Regions from separate parts of the Homo sapiens genome. Here all the other regions are linked to region 2. The links come from fine-mapping of genetic effects on gene expression. A gene starts in region 2. Each other region holds a variant in brackets. All regions are shown on one strand. Distances are between the middles of the regions. Region 1 overlaps MVB12B (multivesicular body subunit 12B). Region 2 holds the start of MVB12B (multivesicular body subunit 12B). Region 3 overlaps MVB12B (multivesicular body subunit 12B). Region 4 overlaps MVB12B (multivesicular body subunit 12B).

Region 1 (5,000 bases), 130 kb before region 2:
CCAGCTCGCAGGGTCTTACTGGGAGCTGTGGGTCTTACTGGGGAGAGAGCTGAAGCCCGCTCACCTTTAAGGGGCCTAGAAATAGGGTTTTGGCCCAGGTAGCCCTGCCAGGACGTGGTTCAAGATCCTTCCTGGAATCGCCATCATGGTGCATGCTCGCTCATCCCCGGAGTGGCTGCCCTGCGCACCCACAGGCTCACAGGAGGGAAGGGAAGAAAGGGCTGCCCAGTATTCCTATCAGTGGAGTCTGGTGGAGAGCGGCACGTGCATCTCTGTGGTGTGTTGTTACCATGTGTCAAAGCATTTAAAGAACATTGATTAAGGAAGCATTTTCCTGGCTGGTTAAAAAAAAAAAAACTCAATTATGGTCATCGACCCCTACCAGAAGGCTATTCACTGTATTACGTGGCATGCACATTATGCAGTGCTTAACAAAAGTAAAATGAAAAAGAAGAGGAAAACATTCACTTCCATCTCACTTATTTAGTTGGGTCTTTATGGGGCTAAAGCCATGCAGGGGTTAAAAAATGCAAGGTCCATACCCCTGGCCACTGCAAATGTATCCTGATGCTTGAATAGGGCACTCCTTTGGCTAAGACCAGGGGCCACCTTTCTACTCGCCCAGCCCCAGGCCACCTGGGTGTCCCGCTTACTGAGCCCGAGGCTCAATGGGATTAGCTGCAGAGTGGTAAACAATGCCTACACAGGAAACATTTCTTCCCATTAACAAAAAAATCAATTCTGCCCCACTAGGCTCTAGCTGAACACAAATGAATTAGGGGGATGAAGGAAAGAGGCTGGAACAACACACTATTGGTGGTTGTGAGCTGGTGCAGCATTTAGGAGAACAAAGTGGAGGCACGGTGGGACCCTGGTGGGTCAGGGCAGCAAGGGGCAGGGTGAACACATTTTAACAGCCAAACTTCTCCTTTCACACATGTGTAAAACCTTTGGAATTCCATCAGAAAAAACTTTATTTCAAAACTGATCTTTGAAGTTTGAAAATAAAAGAAGAAAGCCTATTTCTCAGTACAGAAAGCAGGTTTTAAAATGCTGAAGGGACCAAAGGGAGGTGCTAGCAGGTGGTGGTGGCACTGACTCTGAGGTCCATGCCTCTCCTGTCTCCCGGTGCTCTCTGCTTTACCGCGTCTGTTTCTCACTTAGACTTTCCCTGATGGGACACCAGACTTCCATCTTGCCTCTCTCATTGTCTTTTGCCCTGTTGGGGCCTGGTGAGCCCTTGTCCCAGCCCTGGAAGGTAATCTGGATGGTATCCTTGATGATCCAGAGAGGAGGGGAGGCCACCTGTGTATATGTCATGTGTGCACACATGTGAGCATGCACACGTGTCATGTGTGCACATATGCATGTGAGGCTGTGTGTCACATGCAAGACCATGCACACGGTATGTATGTACACGTGAGAGTGTGCCACACGTGAGTGTATGCATGTGCCACGTAACGCATGTGAGATTGTGTCCATGTACGAGTTATGCACATGTGAGAAGGGGCATAGTGAGAAGAAAGAAACCGCAAGAGCCTCATGGGCAAGCAGAGGCTGAGCCTGTGTAATGAACACCTCTTCCAGGAAGCAGCCGGTGATACACAGGCCACTGCTGTTGGCAACGGATTCCTCTACAGCCCACACAGGCAGAAAGAAGTCACTAGGACCTCCAACCTCAGGTATGAAAACAAAACTCCATACTTGAGAAGGGAGAAGGGGCAAACAGCAACACTCCTGAGCTCTGGGAGTCCCTTCTGCCCAGCCAGGCCCTGGTCTGCTCCGGGTGCTCAGCTGCTTCCCTGCTTGCAGCTGGACCTTTCACCCCTCCCCTGCTTGCTCACCCAGTTGACAAGTTCATGTGTCCTTGACAATGCACTGGGGTGGGTGGGGATGCTCACGGGGAGGTGGCACGTCTGTGGGGTTTTCTGGCAAAAATAGATGCTCACTAAAAACCCGCTGAACTTGAAGAAATAGGGATTTTATCTTTCTCACATATTTCACAGCTGACAAAGCACTTTCAGCAAGTCTTCTCTTAATTAGTCTTTACCACAATCCCGGGAGGCAGGCATTTTCAGCCCCTCTTGATAGAAGACTGACTTGAAGCTCAAAGAAGGTGAGGGGCTTGTCTCGGGGGCAGAGCTGGGACTTGAGTCCAGAGCTTTTAAAAATTAAACCTCATTGTCCTACAGCCACTATTCCCCACCCTGTATTAGCAGGTCACTTATTTCTGAGAAAGAACTAGACTGCAATTTGCAGAAATGGCTGGAAAATAAAGGGCCATGAAGTGCCTAAGCATTTCATTTATTTTTTCTTTCTGGCATCAGTTAGCAATTACCCTTGAACTTCCCTTCCTTCCCTGCTTCCTAAGACATCCCAATTACTTCAGCCAAAAAACTCACCCAAACTCCCAAATCACCCCCACCCCCAACACCCAAACATCCAGGTCAGCAAGATCAAAGGCATGGGGGAAATGGGCTCTGACAACTCTTTCTTTCCTCTGCCGGGTTCACACACTTTTCTCACTTACTAACTGAGAACAGAGAGGCTGAACAGCTGCCTTGTTATTTCCAGCAACATTTGGGATAGAACCAATTTCCAGTCTGGCCAAACGACCTGAGGCCCTGCTGAATGTGTTGCACCGGCTGCCCCCAAATCACCAAATGGACAGCGCTCTAACAGGGAACACATTTCCCCAGCTCCCAGGCAAC[C/T]CCGTGGGCCCGCAGGGTCTGCACACGTCTGGAGCTGAGTCCCCAGTGCTGGTCCGAGCTGAGGAGGGAAAGCCTACCAGGCTCCAAGGCAGGGCCATGTCTTCTTTACCTTTTGTGTCCCAGATTCAAGTAGAATGACCAGCAAGTAGTTGGGGCTCAGGGCTGGCTGAATGGCCTCCACGTGAACACCAGGAATTAGGCTGGGTCTATTGTTTAAAATGCACATTCTCCCTGGGAGCCCTGGTTGCGCGTGCCTGCACGTGAGCACACGCATGAGCTGAAGGCACGGACTCACATTCTTCCTTTTTTCATCTCCTAGGGAAAAAGTAGGTGCATCTGCTGGTGCCTGACACAAGGATCCCCTGCCTCCGACATGCACAGGAGCTGCTGGGAATGGGGTTGATGGTACGGTTCAACTTGCACATAACTGGTGAGCGGGGCTAAGGAATGAAACAGTGGGACTTTCATAACCACCAAGCCCGCGGCATTCCAGGTGTCCTCAATCAGACAACCTGCATGAAATTTACACAGAGACTCGGCAAACAGCTTGGGATCAGTCACACGGCTAACCTAATCTGCTCTTCATATTCCACCTGGCTTTTCATTGCTTACCTGTGACCAGAGGCTGTGGGTTCAGGGGCATCTTTAAAGCTAAATCAGAAAGATAAATAAACCCCCTCCAGATGACATGAGTCCCGGGCACCCACCCAGGACCCTTGTGCCTCCTCTCTTCCTGCTTCTGGAAGGTAGTGGGAGGGTCGTGTCCCACCACGGAGTTCCTGCAGTGCCTCATCCCTCTGTCCAGCTTTTTGGCCCCCCTGTCCCGGTGGGTTTGAACTCCTACTGCTTTGGGAGCTGGGGATAGGGAGATGCAGCCTTGACCATTCCCCTGGGCTTGAATCCAGTTCTCACAGAGCCTTGCTGTCTCTGGTCTCCAGGGTTCCTGCTCAGAGCCTGGATGGGCTGCAGCTCTTGGGATCATTTGCTCGAGACCCTCTACTAAGTACCCCTGACCTGTCCCTGACACCCTCCTCCACCTGGAGGTGCAGCAAAAGGCCTAGGCCTTTGAGAGAGTCCCCTCTGCACTGCTTCCCAGCCATTCTCTACAGTGGTGAGCACCTACCGTGGGCAGGGCCATTTTGCAAGCTTTATTTCATTTCATCTTCACTGCAATTCTTGAATGAGGCTTTTCATGCCTCCATTTTTGTTTCTACAGTCAAAGACGCTGAGGCCCAGATGGTGAAGGGCCTGACTCCCTATGGCAGTGGTGGTGTGAAAGGCAAGGCTGGGAATACTCAGCCTGCCAAGCCTCTTCCTCCTCCTCTGACCCCTGCTCTTCTGGTGATGCAGAGATGCCACCTAGGGTGGAGTACGTGACCTTGCTGTCCAGCACAGCCCCAAACACAGCCACTCACCGCAGAGCCCAGTCACCATGGGAGAAAGGCCAAACAGTGCCGCTTCCCTCCCTTAATGTGTCCCCTTTTGGGCTGGGTGGCACAGCTGGTCTGCACCTGCAGGGCTGAAGGACATCCCTGGGATACAGGGTGTCATTCCTCCTGCTTGATCTGCCTCCCAAAACCCAGCCCTGAGCAGGCAGCAAGTGCCCTTTCAGCCTCCGCTGCACCAGCCTGAGCCGGAATCCCAGCTCTCATTAGCTGTGTGATTGGGCAAGTTGACTGAGCTCTCTATGCCTTGGTTTCTGCATCTATTAACTGGGATTAATTATATCGACACCTCTTTGGGTTGCTATGAGACTTGAAGAGAGTTTGGGTGAAGCACTCTATAAATGCTAGGTAAGTGAGTGTTATTAATTTCCCAAACGTGAGAAAATGACCAACATCTGTTCTGGCACCCCTCCATCTCTATGCCCTCCCCACCAGCCCTATCAAATGCAGTTTCCTGTAAATAATCCTCACATGGGGATGGAGCAGGGCCGGGGAGGGAGTACATCCCTGGTCCACAAGGCTGCTGTGACATGACAAATAAGCTGCAGGCTGACAATGTCTCCAAGACATATTGGAGTTTACTTTGTCATTTGGGCTTGCCATCTGTGTCACCCCAATGGGGGCTAGCTTCCCAGGCTGCTCTGGGAGCAGGCGGTAAGAGTCCACTAGTCCCCGGACAGATCTGGAAGCTCAGCCGGCCATCCATTAGGCTGACTAATGAGAGGAAGTGGAGCTTGCCCACCGCCCACCTGGGAGCCAGACCTTCCTTCCCAGGGAGGGCCAGGGGCTCTGCTCTGCACAGTGCAGGGAGCAGCAGGACTCATCACCTGATGGGCCCTCCCAG
Region 2 (7,705 bases):
GCCAGAGCAGCCTGGGGAGAAGGAGTCTATTCAAGAAACCCAGGCCTCCCCTCCACAACCCAACCTGCAAAGGAGGCTCTGCAACACAGTGTGCTCAGCCTAACCACATCCAGCCATGTAGTCATTTGTTATCTTCATCATCATAATAGCACCTTCGACTTTTCCCATGCTTGACTCCAGCACCATCATTATTTTGCAGTGTGGCAAGGATGTCTCCCTTTGAGTATGGAGCACTTCCAGCAAACTCAGACAGAGGGGCCTATGCCATTTGGATTCTGATCCCCCCAGGAGAAGATCCTCCATGAAATGGATAGAGACTACACTTCTCCCTTACCCCTTCCAAGGCCCTGAGAGGGCATCCAGCAGTGTGCTCACATGGTGGCGTGGTTCTGTAACATGTACAAACACAGGATATTCTTGTATTCTTTTTCTTAATGCTCTCCCCGCAACAAACTGTATAAACATCGGACCTGAAAAAAACACCATGATCTGCTGCTGGATGCTGAATCGCACACTTAAATTTCATGAGGACCGCCACCTCCTGCAGTGCCAAGTGCAGTCACATACATTAGCTCCTTCAGCTCTTCTTGACTGATTAGCTTTATGGGGTAGGCTTTGTTCTTAAGACACTTTTACATTACAGAAATGGGGATTCAGAAAGGTTCTGTGACTCCCCTAGGGTCACCTGGGGTCCAGGAGGTAGCCTGAGAGTCAAACTCAAGCTCCTAAATCCAAGTCCAGTGTTCTTTCTACTATACCATCACTTCCTGGTTGTCCCGTTGAAGACTAAATAATAGGCCAGGCGTGGTGGCTCATGCCTGTAATCCCAGGAATTTGGGAGGCCAAGGTGGGAGGATTACTTAAGCTCTGGTGTTCAAGACCAGCTTGGGCAACATAGCAAGACCCCAACTCTACTAAAAATAATAATAATTTAAAAAAACAGCCGAGCGTGGTGGCAGGCACCTATACTTGGGAGGCTGAGGTGGGAGAATCGCTTGAGTCCAGGAGTTCAAGGCTGCAGTGAGCCATGATGGTACCACTGCACTCCAGCCTGAGTGACAGTGAGACCCTGTCTCAAAAACAAACAAAAACCAAAAAAAAAGCAGACAGAAAGAAACTCTAAAAATAAATAAATAAGCTACTCCTCTCATTCATCCGTTAACAAACCTCTCATAATGACCCCTACCGTTTACTGACTTCTTGCCATGTAGCAGGCACTGAGCTAGACTTTTCTTGCAAAATTTCATTTACATCACGCCATAATCCCATGAGATGAATACTATCATTAGTTTCACTCTACAGATGAGGAAACTGAAACTCAGAAAAGTTCAATAATTTGTCCAAGGGCACAAAGTAAGTAGGAAAGCCAAGACTTAAGCTGAGGGCTAATTCTAAACTCCCTGCACATAACCATGGCACAACATTCCAGTTGGAAGTGGTAAAAGGTCCCTAGCAGGATGGAGACAGGGCAAGAAAAATGCCTTGAACCTAAATTAGGAGTGTGACCTAAAGCCTAGAAGGAAGGAATGAAAAATATGGATTACAGAAGGTAAGTTTAGGTTTAAATGAACCAGTAATCGCCACGTCAACTGCTTCCCATGGGGCTTGGAGCCCGGGTCCCAAGCAGAAGCCTCATCTCTCTGAGGCCCTATTTAAAGATTCTGAGCATGGTACAGTATCTCCAAGGACCCCACATGATTTCTAACAAGCAAGAAAGGTGTCACCATCTACTGTAACTAAACATCCTAGCACATTGAGTTTTTCAGTTAGTCAAGGCTTCACAGAGCTTATTTTTTAACTCTCTAAGCTTTCCTGGTGCCGCTGATAAGATTTCCCAGCCCTGTTAAAACGAGATGAGATCCAGCCAGCTGTCGAGAAATGTACAATGAGATTATACTGAGAAGGAACCACGAGAGACAAAGGCCCCTAAGAGGAGCTGGTCTGCTGTCTGCTTTTGTGGCAGCAATCGGAGTGGGCTCTGGTTCTTGGGTGGGGGCAGGAAGCAGGGAAGGGGCAACCACCATTTGCCTTTTGCCCTCCTGTGGTCTTCCTCAGTGCCTTGTGCAAGAGGTGTTGAGGGGCAGGGAACAGAAGAGTCTCATCTTTCATGGTGAGAAGGGCTGCTGATTTAGAACAGTTGTGTGTTGGTAACAAAGAGGACAAAAGATGCTCTTGGGTCTACCCCGTTCCCTGGTGCCTGCCTCTGAGGATGTGATGTCCCCTGGTGCCATGCCTCAGCTCTTGTCCCAGCCCCTGCTCCTCCCGTCTCGCTGGTGTTGGAGTCACTGTAGGGTGCTCGACGTGCCCACCATGTTCCTGGATGGGTGCTCTGGGTCTCGGGTACCCAGGCTGGGCATGTCACCTTCCAGACAGGTGCCTGAGGGTTTAGGTGTCCTCTCTGCTGTGCCCAGGTCACAGAGGCAGTGATGCTCCTGGGGCAGGTGCACGTTGGTCTGCACCCACGTGACCAGAGAGAGCAGGACCCCAGGCCAGGCCGGTCAAACGATTGACTGTTCCCAGTCTGTGCCCAGGTGGGCCGCCTCCCTCTCACGCGGGCAGAGGTGGCTCTCGGCGCCCCTCACCTGCCCGGGCCTTGGGGGCGCTGCTGGCACTCGGGTCCCCCAGCTTCTCCCGCCTCTCGCCGCCAGGCCGAGCCCGGGCACCGGCAGCCGCGGCGCGCTCGGGGCTCTGCAAAGGCCGCCCGGGCCTGTCCCCGCCGCGGGCCGGGCACGGAGCCCGCAGGCCTCGGCGCGGCCCGGCTCCTCCCGTCCGCCCGCCCCTCGGCCGGGGGCCCGCGCCCGCCCGCCCGCCCTCCCGGCTGCAGGGCCGGCTCCGCCGAGCCTCCGCGGCGCCCGGGCCTCACTTAACTGTTCCCCGCTGGGGCGGCGGCGGCGGTGGCTGCGGCGGCGGCGGGTCCCGGCTCCGTCTCACGCAGAAGCAGCTTCTCATCGCCCGGGCGGCGCGGGAGGGGCCGGGCCCGGGGCCCAGGCGGCAGGAGCCGGCGCCGCAGCTCGAGCGCGAGCCTCACCGAGAGCGGCGGCGGCGGCGGCGGCGGCGGAGGGGCGGGGCGCGGCCTGGCGGCGGCGGCGACAACGGCAGTGGCGGCGGCGGCTCCCTCCGCGGGCCGCGGCGGCGGGCCGGGCTCCGGGCCTCCCGGCGCTGGCGCTGGTTCAGGATCGGGGGAGGCGCCCGGCGCCCGAGGCTGGCTCGGGCGGGAGGAGGGAGAGGGAGCCCTGGCGTCCCGAGCCCGCGCCGCCGCCCCGGCCGGCACCCCGCCTCCCCAGCCTCCCCCTCGACCCAGCCCGTCAGCCGCAGGCAGGGCCCCGGTGCGCCCACCCGGGCCTCCCCGAGCCCGCCGGCGACCCCAGTCCAGCCTCAGGCCCCCGGGAGCCCACGGCCTCTAGAGCCTGGGGCATCGATGGTCCCCGCCCCCAGGCTGGTCTTTTCCAGGGACCCTCAGCCCACTTAGCTCTCGTAGGCCTCGCTGTACGCAAGACCGGTCTTCCGCTCGGCTGCAGATCCCTGGAAGCCCCCAGGCCCTCAGGCTAGAAGTTGGACCCTTCTAAGGACTCTCCGCCCACCCAGCCATTCTAGGCTTCACTGAACCCTAGAATCCTTCAGCTCATCTTCCCCCACCCCCCAGCTCACCTAAGGTGAGCTCAGCCAGTCGTCTCAAACTAACCCCAATTGCCTAGCAATTCTCTTATATTAGTTAGATGATTTATCCCCAGAAGCCTAGAATCAGGTTTATGGGGCCAGCCTCAGGCAAGCATCTAGAAGAAGTTTTTAGCAGGAGTCCTACCCTGCAGTACTTGGGGAAGGCATAAGCCAAGGATAAAATGGAGCTGGATGGTTGGGGGAGGGTCCAGAGCTTGACCCTCAGCTAGAGTGGCTGGTAGGAAAGGCGGACTCTGCGCCTTAACCAACCATGCCCCCCACACCGCCCAGCCAGGCACCCCAGGCAGAGGCCAGCGTGTGCAAGATTTGAAAGGTTTCCTGCCAGGAGGCTGGAGCATTCGTTAGGACTTGAGGACCATGCAGGAGTGATCAGCATTGATTTGCTAATGCATTGAGTCTCATTTTCACACATTCTAGGCTTTTCCATAATAGCTGTTTGATCCTAAAGAGAAGGGTGCCAAGCAGAATGGGCTGTCGGGGGAAACATCCTGTAGGGAAGCCATGCACGTGTGCATTCCCAGTGTCTTCACTACTCAGAAATGCCATGGGTTCAGATGGCTTTACAGCAAGCCTTATCCTCCCATCAGGGCACAGATCATCCCTATGTTACTTAAACTGTTACACAGGAAAAAATAAACAAAAGAAACAAAAATTTTTATTTCATTTCCCAAGTTTAGCATAACCCTGATACCAAAATCCAACAGACAATACCAAAAAGAACTGCAGATGACTAACCTAGAACACGAGTCCCCAGAGAATTTAATATTTATTTTTTGAAAATGGGCTTCTGTGGGCAACTTGAGAAAGTGCTGCATGCCGTTTATAGTGTACCTTTTGGAGAATCACGATAAGTATTCGTATATTAAGGAAGGCCTCTGTGAAGTCCAGGAGTAAAGAAACCTGTTTGGTTTGTTTAACCTGGCATTTCCCAAACTCATCTGAGCCAGGACCACCTTCTAAAGCTCACTGATAAATCCTCAATATGTGAATCTGCACTATATATTTAAGTATATAATAGTCGTAAAACTATTAAATACAATTTTAGCCATTTGAATCCAGTTTACTATTAAAGCAACTGAAAACCCACCATGATCAAGCAAGATTTATTCCAGAGGCGCAAGAAAAATCCAACATTAGGGAATTTGTAAATGCATTGCATTGTTAAAGGAAAACAAATTACAGGATATTATCAATGGGATAGATGCTTTAAAAGTATTTTATAAACTTCAAAACTAATGACCCATAAATTTCTAAAAACTCTTAGTAAACTATTATAGGAAGAAAGTTTAAACTTTTAACATGACAAAGTTTATCAGAAGCCATCAACAAACATATTTAATGGTGAAACACTAAAGGTATTCTCATGTAAGTCAGTCAAAAGGATGCCTGCTATAATGGCTATAGAATAAAGCCAATGCAATAAGATAAGAAAAATAAATAAGAAATATAAATATTAGAAGGGAAGAGATAAAATTGTCATTATTTGCTTATGATTTAAGTGTTTCCCAAAAAGTAAAAATAAAAAAAATCAACTAAAAATCATAGAGACTTTGGTAAGGTGGTCAGTTATAAGATAAACACCAAAATCAATGGTTTTCCTAAATGTTAAGGGAGAAGCCTTCTCCTTCCTTCTTCTTCTTCTTCTTCTTCTTCTTATTATTATTATTATTATTATTATTATTATTCTTTTTTTTCTTCCTTACCCTGTCTTATGGTATTGAAGGGAGAAGCCTTCTTTTCCATATAGAGGGACTTCCATTAGAATAAGACTTCTGGCCTCTCTCCACTCTAAGGGAAGATGAGTGAGTTTGGAAAAAGTGGACAAGAATAGATGCTTCTGAGTTCTCTTTTTGGATTTGGCTGACTGCAGAGAGCAAATATTTCCATGCGCTCTCACTGTGGGTTAAGTGAACCTGTTTCAGGGACAGAGTGATACTATTCTCCTGCACCACCCGCCACTACACAAATAAATCTACTCAATTCAGGGAGAAATATAGCAAGCCCACTTAGCTACAGAGCAAAAGCTACTTTTTCCAGTCAGCTTCATTAAAAATTAAGGTAGTATTTTTGTCTTATGTCTCTTTCCTGTGTCTATGCCCCAGTTTGTTCCAAACTTAGAATAGGGAGGGAGGTATTACTTACAGAGACCTCCAAATACAACACTAAATACCAGTTATTTCCATTTAGGAAGTATGATGGAAAAAAAGCATATTCACATTAGCAATGAATACTATAAGGCATATACTAGGCATAAGCTTAACAAGAAATGTGAAGGTCCATGGAAAGAAAACTACAAACCTGACTGAGGGACATAAAAGAAGATCTTAATAGTCGGAAAAATATAACAAATCCCTGGGCAGGAAGTCTCAACAGTGCAAAGATGCTGTGTCTCCCCAACTCACTTTATAAATTTAGTAAAATTCAGATCAAGAAACCACTATGATCTGAGGGGTGAGGTGAGATGGAACATGATGAAATTATTTTAAAATTTACCTTGATTGGCGTGAGTGTGTTGGCTCATGCTGGTAATCCCAGTACTTTGGGAGGCCAAGGTGGGAGGATTGTTTGGGGCCAGGAGTTTGCGACTAGACTGGGCAACATAGTGAGACCCTGTCTCTAAAAAGATTTTTTAAATGAGCCAGGTATGGTGGTGTGTGCCTGTGGTCCCAGCTACTTGGGAGGCTGTGGTGGGAGGATTGCTGGAACCCAGGAATTTGAGGCTACAGTAGGCTATAATCACGCCACTGCACTCCAGCCTAGGCAACAGAGCAAGATCTTATCTCAGAAACAAACAAACAAACAACAACAAAAAAAAACTAACAAGAAACTTATCTTGATAAATAAGTATGAGGAAATACCCATGAAATTTTTGAAATGGAAGAATAATGAGAAAATATTGCTCTAACAAATATTACAATATAATGTAAAACTTCAGAAGAAACTATGGGCCACTAGTGTAAGAATATACACTTTTGTCATATATTAAGTTCCGTTTATAAATGCTTTGTTTTTATCCATTGATCTATTTGTGTGTATAGATATAGATATAGATGTAGATATAGTTTTTTTTTTACTTTAAGTTCTGGGATACATGTGCATAACATGAAGGCTTGCTACACAGGTATACATGTGCCATGGTGGTTCATGGCACACATCAACCCGTCCTCTAGGCTTTAAGCTCCGCTTGCGTTAGTCATTTATCCTAATGCTCTCCCTCCCCTTACCTCCCACACCCCAACAGGCCCCAGTGTGTGATGTTCCCCTCCCTGTGTCCATGTGTTCTCATTGTTCAACTCCCACTTATGAGTGAGAACATGTGGTGCTTGGTTTTCTGTTCCTGTGTTAGTTTGCTGAGAATGCGTATATTTTTAAATAACTATTCCTATAAAAATAGGTATATCCATTGTATATTATACATCTATTGTATATAATAGGAATATCCATTTTAATCTATTGAGCTATTTGTATATAGGTATACAAATAAGGCATACAAATTTGTATATTTCATACACCCTACTCCAAACCATATTTTCTGGCCTAGACCACTCTAGTAATTTCCTTACTGGTCTCCTGGCTTTGCCCTACCCAAACAATGGAAAGTAGCAACCAGAGCAATCATTAACAAATAATAATAGGCCAGGTATGGCGGCTCATGCCTATAATCCCAGCATTTGGAGAATGCTGAAGCAGGAAGATCGCTTGAGGCCAGGAGTTCAAGATCAATAAACATAGTGAGACTCCATCTCCACAAAAAATAATAAATTAGCCAGACATGGTGGTGTGAACCTGTAGTCCTAGTTACTTGGGAAGCTGAGGCAGGAGGATCACTTGAGCCCAGGAATTTGAGGCTATAGTGAGCTATGATTGTACCACTGCATTCCAGCCTGGATGGCAGAGAGACCCTGTCTCTAAAAAAATAAATAAATACTTTTTTAAAATAAAAAAATAATAATAAGTGCTGGGTGCAGTGGCTCACACCTGTAATCCTTGCATTTTGGGAGGCCAAGATAGGAGGATCGCTTGAGCC
Region 3 (5,000 bases), 110 kb before region 2:
ACAAGTCAGGCGTAAGAAACTGCTCTCTAACAAAGGATCTCAACCTTGGAGGAGAGTTCTGTATCATTCATTGTCTTACAGACAATTGTAAGACAAATCTGGGGAATCAAGAACCTTATTCTCTGGGATAGGTGATAAATATATTCCATCCAAACTCCAGGCTGCAGGATTGAAGATTTTTTTTTTTAAACATAAATGCATTTAGGACTATCACTGGCCATTAATAAAAAGAGGGAAAAAGCCATTCAGTATTCAGGGCACAAACACCAACTGTGTGACAGTAGTTGGATTCAGGTACTCTGTCCAAACAAGACAGGTGGCTTCGTTGTTCTAAAAAAGATCGGAATTTCTTTTGTCCTAATGTCAGCAGTTAAATGCATTCATTCTGACAAAAAAGGGGGACCCTCATACTGTGTAAGAGCTGAAAGATAAATCTCATCACCAAAGCTTGTGCGACTGTTCAACTTCTCCCCAAGTTCTGGCACCGCATGTATCCATCCTTAGCAGGCCATCGAGAGTTTACCCCAACTCGGAATCCAATGCCCTGCCACTACTGTCTTAACTCAGAGATGCTTGAGCTCGGCAATGCTGGCAGCTGGAGGACTCAGGGGGCTGGAAGCAGGCAGGAGTGGAAGCTGGGACTGGGAATGACTGGGTCACAGGTGAGGGTTATTCTGGAGCACTCACAGGGAATACTCACAAGGAATGCTCACGGGCTGCAATGGCTCAGTAATCTTGGGCTTGGGTTTAGGAGAAGTTGGCTCTTAGGAGGCCCAATCTAGAGAATGAAGCTTCCAAGCAGGAAAGGCAGGGCAGCACACAGGTGACTATCAGTTCAAACTAGAGCCCTGCCCATGGGCAGGGTACAGGGACTCACGGAACAGGAGAGCTAGAGTAGGGGAGAAGAACACTTGGGGGTCAGACCCAATAAGTGAAACGATGGGCTTGGGCTGCCCACCATCACTATAGGCTAAGAGAAGGCCACCACGAAGAGACATCCCAGTGCCAAGGGCTCCCCCAGACACAGGTTTATAGCAGCAAGGCTAGTGCAGCCCCCACTATGAAGGCAGAGGTTCTTTGATACCTGGTGTATCAAAGGGGATACCTGGTGTATCAGAGGGGATACCTGGTGTATCCCCTTTCCTGGCTGGGAAAGGATCTGAGAAGGGGCTGGGAGGGCAGGGCTGTGGATACCAACAATCACAGCAATACATCAATAGCACTTTCTGTGTCCCAGGCATGGTTCTAAGCTTCACCATAAGTCACCGTCACCCCCATTTTACAGGTAAGGAGACAAAGGCACAGAAGGGTTCAGTTCCTTGCCCAAGGTCATTTAACTTTAAGTAAGGAGGCCTTGGGCTCCCCACCTTCACTGTTTTGCCCAGCAAGAGTGATGGGAGCCACACCCCCTATTCCTTTTTTCCTTTGGATCCAGCATTGCCATCAGCCAAGTGTCAAAGGCCTCACTCTGATGAGGTCCCAGAGATGATCATCCAGGGGCCCACGTGAGAGTTTAAACAGTGCTGAGGCCCAGTACACCAAGTTAGTCCTAGCACGATTCACTCCAGGTCTGTGTGCCATTTCCAACCTTCAAGTTGATGAGGGGAGGGAAACGGTCACACGCAACCTGTGCTAAAGAAGCATCCTCAGTACCGTGGTTTCGAGCTCAATGTCTGCAGTCAAAGAGACCTGGGTCTGAATCTCAGCCCTGCCACGTACCACAGGTGTAACTGTGAGCTGATCACAAGCTCTCAAGACCTCAGTTTCCCCATCTGTAAAAGATTTTCTTGGTTAAGGATTTGTTGGGATTAAATAACATAATGCATGGCAAGTGCATATGCCATACCTTACACAGGGTAAGTAAGAGGAAGGCTGGGTATTATTCAGTAAATTCATTTAATTAATTTAATCCATTTTAATAATGCAAAAACAACTAAA[T/C]GTGTTTCAATGAAAGAAGTTGCCTTCATCATTTTCCCCTCTCAGCTGAGAGTTTATTATTTTGAGAGAGACAGAGGTAGAGAAAGAAACAAAAGGCTAATTTGGTATAAGCTGCCTCTAGGCAGGAGTGTCTGGTCACACTACTTCATTCACTCCAGAGTAAACCTCTGAAGAAGTGCTAAGAGCAGGTGAAGGGCTGGGCTCAAGGGGGTTCCCTTTGTTTTCAGCATTTCTCTGGCCAGGTCTACAATTATGCTGTCTCTAAGGAAGGGAATTATCAGGGGGAAATGGGCATATTTCTGCTGAAAAACTAGACAAAGAAGATAAACATACAGGGAGAAAGGTATCAGAAAGTTGGTTTTTCTGTGTTCATGTGTTTAGGAACGTTACAGTCAAGGCAGTGTTTGGACAGAATGTCTGTGAAGTCCAGGGGCAGTAAATGCACATTTGCTGGCCACTGCGAGGCCTGGGGCATCTCAAGCTGCAGAATATACAAGCCTCCTTCCCACATAGCTTTAAGTCCTGGGAGGTGGGCATTACCACCTCCACCTTAAACACCAGACAATGCCTGGTGCACAGGAAGCGTCCCATAAGAATGAGCCGACCTATTGCTATGTTCAAATGATCGATATTGTTACTGCAATTGCTGATATGGAGAGATGTGGAATTTAGATCCAGAAAGGCTAGGATCTCTGCTGGCCTCACTCGGCTAGTCGGTGGGAGAGACAGGGCCTGCACCCAGCTGTTTGGGCTCCCACCCTGCTTCATCCAGCTGCCCTCGGCTGCCTGGACCACAGATTTAACCCTTTTCCAAGTTAAGAAGGGGATGTGGCCCATTAAACCAGTGCCGCCTAAGCTCTGCCATGCTTAAAAACCAAAAAGAGAAGGAAAGCACAGTGGGAAGGTGGCCGCCTGTTTAAGAGCACTGAGGTATCTGTCACCTAGTAATATTTTTATTTTTCATGATGACTTAACTGGAAAAAGTCTTAACTTCTTCCTACCCATGGGGCACAGGAAAAGCAGAAATGAAAGCCTAGAGCAGAAATCAGCCCCCCAGGCACTTTTCCTCCAAAAAACCAAAGGTACATTGAAAGATTTTATAGAAGTTGCAGCCTCACGCTGCCAAGCACTTCTCTCCTTCCTGCCCCCAAGCCATCATTCTGTCACCTTCTTGAGAAAGGGATCGTGGGCTGCTTGCCACGGAAAATAGCCCACTTCTAAGTGGTGATGCGTGACAGAATGTCTCGGCTTCCAGGGGGTACTGAGCTGAGCCATGCCAGAGAGCCTTTTATTGCAAGTTTCTCTGGACTGAGGAAGAAATTTCCTCTGAGCACTCTGAGAAGTAATCTTATATATCAAAATTATATAAGGAAGCACACGGCTAAGAAGATGAAGACCGTGCTGGGCCCAAGCCAGCGTGTCCCATGTGATAATTCTCAACAAGTCTTTGGGCTCTTTCTTGGATCACATCCCTGTAGGGGAGCTGAATAAGGAGAGAAGTGACATTCCTACACTGCTTCCTGGTTTATGAAATGTTCTTACCTACCCTAGATCTTCACAACAATCCAGGAAGGAAACGGGCATTACTGCATTGTTTTAAAGGTATGGATACTAGCATTGCCCAAAGTAGCATTGTGCAGGGTCCTTGTACAGTTCTAGAGGATGCTAGTCACATATTTTGTGCAGTGCACAACCTTGGCAACTGCTCACAGCAGCACTGTATGATGGCCAGTATGTGTCAGAGCCAAGATTCTGACCCTATGCTTCCAACCCCAAATGCCCTATCAGGGCAGCAGGCTTGCCCTCAGGAGCACAGGACAGGGCAGCTCTCGGTGACTGTTGAGTGAATGGAGTGAACAATCTTGCTCTTGTCTTTGCCTTTGTTTACCTACATCCTCCTCAATTAAAAAAAAAAAAAGAGGGGAGCCTCCATTCTCTCTAAATATGGTCTCTGCCCTCTCACTCAAGGTGCTCACAGGTGAAAACTCTCCAACAGAGTAGTGTGGGGTAAACCAGGAGAGAGCATCAGCAGCGGGAGAGGAATCAGAAAAGCCTGATGGAGAGGCAGCTTGGGAGTGGCCTTCAGAGCCACAGCCAGGGACAGAGAGAAGAGAAGGTGGTGAAATCTGAGCTGCTGGAGTGGCGGGGCAAGCATAGCGCAAGACAAAGGCAAGGAGGACGCAGGGAGCGACCCAGGCTGGTGGGACACGGGTGGGGCTGGTTGTTGACAGCCCCAACACCAGGCAGGTGAGGTCTGAGGTCTGAATGAATGCAGTCAGGCTGTGGAGGGGCACAAAGGTGTGATCTGAGGAGCAAGGGGACCAAGGAGGTCTTTGGAGAGATGAGTCAGCTACCTGGGCAACTGGGCTGAGGCTAGAAAAGCCTGGTCAAGGAAGAGAGTCAAGTAAGGGCTGGGCACCAAAGCCTGATACCTGCCAGACTGCAGCCCAGAAGGCCCGGGCCCACGGCCTTCTGTGGGCCCTGCATTCTAAGTGAGAATGCAGGTGTGCGAAGAGAGGTCCCACGCTTAACACTCAGCTGCAGAGGACCTGCTGGGGAACTGATCCTGACCATGGACTTCATCTGGAGTAAGATGACCCAGAGCCCAGCTCAGGGTTCTCAGGGTCTATCTCTCTGTGAAGTCCAGGAGGAGGCACTCGCACTGCAGAAAACCTCCAGGAGGCAGGAGTTCCCCAAGTGCCCTGTGTGTCTGCCTGCACACGCTGTTCATTAACTTCAGTGACACAGCCACCGTGGTGGATGTAGAAAAGCACATCCAATTAGCCAGGCCTACATGAATATTTGCACTCTTAAATCTTTTGCATTTCGAAAGGGTTAAAGCTTATTATTAGCATATAATTTACAGTCCTTTCTCCCAGGAAAGGAATAATGCACAGTAAATGCCACATTCATTTTAATAATACATGTTACAGTCTGTGCCCAACATCTGCACAAAGGTAAAGGAGACAGATTTTTTTGACATGTCCCACTCTGCCATCTAAACACAGGCTTTTTGTTTCTTAAGTGACGGAAGGTTTAATCAAGAAAGCAGGCAATTCATC
Region 4 (5,000 bases), 24 kb before region 2:
CAGCCTTTTAATACTATAAATCTGGACTACGAAAATTGAGAAAGATGGCTCCGCAGCATTTTGAGTCTTCCATACTTTAAGGAGTAACTAGCAAGTATTTTACAAGCACACAATAGCATACTTCCTGCCTATATATATAATATTAAGGCTGAAACATAAATGTTTTGGAAAGATTTATGACAGGCTTAGAAATAAACAGATTCTCTGGCTAACTCTGAATTAACATAAAATTAAAGCAAGCCAGTACTTCCACTTCCAGGAATATGGAGTAAATATACTTTTCCCTAATCTTCCCAGTAAGTACAACTAAAAAAACTGGAAATTATACCAAACAAACACCAGAAGACTCTGAAAGGTGAAATAATCCGTCTGACCAGCTAGGGATCTCATGACCCAGGGAACAACATGGTGGTGAGTTCTGTGGTTTTCTTTCTGCCTCATATATCCCAGACTTGAAGCTAAAGAAATCAGCAACCCAGAAACAGCAGTAAACACAAACCAAAAACCAAAGAAACAAACAAACAAAAACAACAGAAGCCTGCTTTCTCTAGTCAGGGGGCAGCCTAGCAAGAGGGAAGATGTTTAGACAATAATTGCTCTACCCCAGCCAAATGCCACATAAAATACTGTGGCCCCACACCCACCCATGCCAACAAAGCCAGAGTAAGGATCCCAGACTTCCACATCTAAACATCTAAAAAATAATTAATACTAATTCTACACTGTCTCTTCCAGAAAACAGAAGAGGATGGAACACTTTCCAATTCATTTTATGAATCTAGTATTACCAAGCCAGACAGACAGTATACAAAAAGAAAACTACAGATCAATATCCCTCATAAATACAAACACAACATTTTTTTCTTTCTTTTTCAGACATCTGTAACAGCCAAAAAAAATTCTTAACAATCTGTTATCAAAGAGAATTCAGCAATAAATAGAAAGAATTATATACCATGACCAAGTGAAATTTATTCCAGGGATGCAAGGCTGGTTTAATATTCAAAAACCAATCTATTTAATCCACCATGTTAACAAGCTTTAAAGGAAAAAAAAAATCACATGATCATATTAATTGATACAGGAAAGGCATCTGACAAAATTCCATACCTATTCATGATAAAAACTCTCAGAAAAACAGGAATGGAAAGGAACTCCCTCAACTTGATAAACAGTACCTACCAAAACACCTTCAGCTAATATTATACTTAAGAGTGAAAGACTGGGGCCAGGCACGGTGGCTCAAGCCTGTAATCCCAGCACTTTGGGAGGCCAAGGCAGGTGGATCACAAGGTCAGGACTTTGAGAACAGCCTGGCCAACATGGTGAAACCCCATCTCTACTAAAAGTACAAAAATTAGCTGGGCATGGTGGCACATGCCTGTTAATCGCAGCTACTTTGGGGGCTGAGGCAGGAGAACTGCTTGAACCCAGAAAGTGCAGGTTGCAGTGAGCTGAGATCGCACCACTGCACTCCAGTTTAGGCAGCAAAGCAAGACTCAGTCTCAAAAAAAAAAAAAAAAAAAAAAAGAGTGAAAGACTGAATGTTTTCCACCTATGATCAGCAATAAGGCAAGAAGGTCTACTCTCTCACAGGTAACATAGTGCTAGATGTTCTATCCTTTGCAATAAGGCAAGAAAAAGAAATAAAAGGCATACAGATGGGAAAGAAAAAAGGATGAGATTGTTGTCCAGGTGGAAAATCACAAGGAATCATAAGAAAAAAACAAAACCAAAAACCTAGAACTAATAGTGAGTGCAGCAAGGTCACAGGATGTAAGATAAACCTATAAAAATTAACTGAATTTCTATATAACAGCAATGAACATGTGAACATCAAAATTAAAAGTACAATTCCATTTATAATTGCTCAAAATCTAAAAATAAATATTTAGGCTCAAATCTACCAAAACATTATAGAGCT[T/C]GTTTGCTGAAAACTACAAAACGCTGGCGAAAGAAATGAAAGAAGAACTAATAAATGAAGAGACATACTATGTTCATGAATTGGAATACTCAACATAGTGGGGATGTGAATCCTCCTCAAATTGATATGCAGATTTAACATCAATTGCCATTAAAACCCCAACAAGTTTTTTGTAGATATAGGCAAGATTATTTTAAGATTATATGGACAAATAACTGGAATAGCTAAAATCATTTTGGAAAGGAGAATAAAGTAGAAGGAATCATTCTACCTGCTATAGTTTGAACGTCCCCTCAAAAAATCCTGTGGATACTTAATCCCCATTGTAGCAGTATTGAGAGGTGGGGCCTTTAAGAGGTGATTGGATCATGAGGGCTCATTCATTGGATTAATGGATTGATTGGTTATCATGGGAGCAGAACTGGTGGCTTTATAAAAAGAGGAAGAGATCTGAGCTAGCATGTTAGCACTCTGAGTCTCCTCGCCATGAGATGACCTGCACTGTTTTGGGACTCTGCTGAATCTTCACCAAGCAAGAAGGCCCTCACCAGATGTGCCTCTTGAACTTGGACTTCCCAGCCTCCAGAAATTAAGGAAAAAATGGATCACAGACGTAAGTGTTAATGTAAAACTATAAAAGTTGTAGGAGAAAACAGGAGATAATCTTCAGGATCTAGAGCTAGGCAGAGAGTTCTCAGACTTGACACCAAAACATGATTCACAGATAGAAAAAGTAATAAATTGGACTTCATCAAAATTAAAAACATTTGCTCTGTGAAAGGCCCTGTTAAGATGAAAAGGCAGGTAAAGACTAGGAGAAATATTTGGAAACCACATATCCAACAAAGGACTCATAGCTAGAATACACAAAGAGCTCTTAAAACTCAACAGTAAAAAAAACAAACAATCCAATGAGAAAATGAGTAAAGGGCATGAAGAAATTTTCATGGAAGACATACAGATGGCAAATAAGCACATGAAAAGATGTTCAACATCATTCATTAACCACTAGGGAAATACAGTGTGAAACCAAATGAATTATCACTATGCACGTGTCAGAATGGCTAAAACAAAAAAATACTGACGATAACAAATGCTGGAAAAGATGTCGAGAAACTGGATCCTCATATATTCATTACAGCTACACCAAAAAGTAGTTTAACATTTTATTTAAAAACTAAACATGCAACTACCATGTGACCCAGCAAATGCATTCCTGGATATTTATCCCAGAGGAATAAAAACACAGCCACATGAAAGCCTTCACCTGAGTATTTATAGCAACTTTATTCATAATGGCTCCAGAATGAAAACAACCAAGATGTCCTTCAATGGGTAAATGGTTAAACAAATTGTGGGATATCCAAACCATGGAATACTATTTATCAGTAAAAAGAAATAAACTATTAACCCACACAATAGACTCTCTGCATGAATCTCAGGAGAATTATGCTGAGTTTTTTTTAAAAGCCAATTCCAAAAGGTGACATACTATAATTCCGTTTATATAAGATTCTTCAAATGCCAGAATTATAGAAATGGAGAACAGATTAGTGGCTATCAAGGGTTAAGGAGAAGGTGGTAGTATAAGGGAAGTGAGTGTAGCTATAAAACGACAACATGAAAGATCCTTATGGTGATAGAAATTGTATTTTGGCAGGTTTTTTCTATATTTTATGAGGCTTTGATATCCTGAGGTCTTGCAGAAGCAGGGAGGGACTGCCCCTCCTAGGTGAATGACTTGCTTGTGTGCATGCCTTGGATATGCAAACCAACCAATACTGAGTTCTTATCTCCATCTGCCTGCTTTCACGGGCTCTTGCAGTCCAGGACACGATTCCCCTGCCCTAAATCACCCCAGGGCCAGGTACCTGACAATGAGGGACTCACCCATGTACCCCAGGACCTGCCAAAATTATTCAAACTTAATCAATCCTAACTGTGCTCACCCTGCTTGACACTGCCCTTCCTGGCTCGTTTCTCCCTGGCTCTCTGTGCTTCCTGACACACCCCACGCTTCCCCACCTATGTTTCCCCACCTGTGCTTCCCCAGGTGGCCCTACAGGGTGTGGCCTGTCTGCTCCTCTTGGGAACTGCGAGTAATAATCTTTCCAGTGGCAATCCTCTCCTCATTTATTGGCCACATCATATATGAATAAAAACAAAAACCTGGGCACGTTTTAAAACAGAAATGTTCTGTATTAATGTACTGTATTAATGTCAGTATCCTGGTTGTAACATTGTACTAGTCTGCAAGACTTTACCATTGGTGGGGGGTAAACAGGATCTCTCTGTAGTACTTCCTACAACTGCATGTGAGTCTACCATTGTCTCAAAATAAAAAGTTTAACTGAAAAAAAAGAAAGAAAAATTAAAGCAAGCGCCTCGTCTTTTTTCAACCATCCAATTAATTGACGTTTCATTATTAGAAGGCTTTTTAAATAGGGAATTAGGAAGTTTTAGCAAACAGAAGGAAGTACCAGAACACTGCCTGTTCCCTACCACTTTCCAAATGAATCAACTACGGAACAAGTCATTAGCGGGAACTTTGGGTCAAAACGAAAAATTCATGGTTAGCAGGGAAGGGAAGCCTAGAAGAAAACAAGACCAGCTCCTCTGCAACCAGGTGCTTTAAGCCACTATTTCTAAGAGGATCACCTAACGATAGCTGATGTTTGCCTCCTGCACACCTCGTGGATGCCAGCACTGTGCTAAGTGTGCCACGTGCATTCTCTCAGACCACAGCTCTGCTCCCTTGGGGCCAGGGTGCGGCAGGACAAAGGGGAATGTGGAGGGAAGGACCTTAAAAGAGGTTTGCTAATCCAGGCCACAGGGAACAAAGGCCCAGGGCTAGTTACAAAAACCACTTTCCGCATTTCAGTAAATCTCAGCTTAATGTATTTTCTAACAAAACAAAAAGGAGGAACACCTGGTGCCTTTTATCAAAACAAGCTCTGGTTTTGAAAATAAACCAATCTGTGTGGCAGGACTCAAAGTCTGTGGTTATTTCTGCAGTTAGTAGCCCCACGATAGCAAAGCCCTGTGCTCAGGAAGCTGGGACAGCAAGAACAAGCTG

What was found. PIP is the estimated chance that this variant, and not a neighbour inherited with it, causes the effect.
Region 1: its variant is fine-mapped to the expression of MVB12B in T cells (TOPMed, PIP above 0.99).
Region 3: its variant is fine-mapped to the expression of MVB12B in whole blood (INTERVAL, PIP 0.97).
Region 4: its variant is fine-mapped to the expression of MVB12B in whole blood (TOPMed, PIP 0.94).

What each region holds. Positions count from the first base shown.
Region 1 is chr9:126,450,146-126,455,145 of GRCh38, reverse strand. The region is part of intron 7 of MVB12B (multivesicular body subunit 12B); the gene reads right to left. Among named protein-coding and RNA genes, the nearest start is that of NRON, 42 kb to the right of the region's middle. RefSeq lists an enhancer at 2,807-3,308. The variant C/T (reference allele first, on the strand shown) is at 2,712.
Region 2 is chr9:126,322,174-126,329,878 of GRCh38, reverse strand. It overlaps MVB12B (multivesicular body subunit 12B), which reads right to left and starts at 3,050. Exons shown (of 10, transcript NM_033446.3): 1 at 2,869-3,050. The coding sequence starts at 2,949. RefSeq lists an enhancer at 1,833-2,484 and a silencer at 2,926-3,065.
Region 3 is chr9:126,429,433-126,434,432 of GRCh38, reverse strand. All of the region lies in intron 7 of MVB12B (multivesicular body subunit 12B), which reads right to left. Among named protein-coding and RNA genes, the nearest start is that of NRON, 21 kb to the right of the region's middle. The variant T/C (reference allele first, on the strand shown) is at 1,939.
Region 4 is chr9:126,348,014-126,353,013 of GRCh38, reverse strand. The region is part of intron 2 of MVB12B (multivesicular body subunit 12B); the gene reads right to left. Among named protein-coding and RNA genes, the nearest start is that of MVB12B, 24 kb to the right of the region's middle. The variant T/C (reference allele first, on the strand shown) is at 1,925.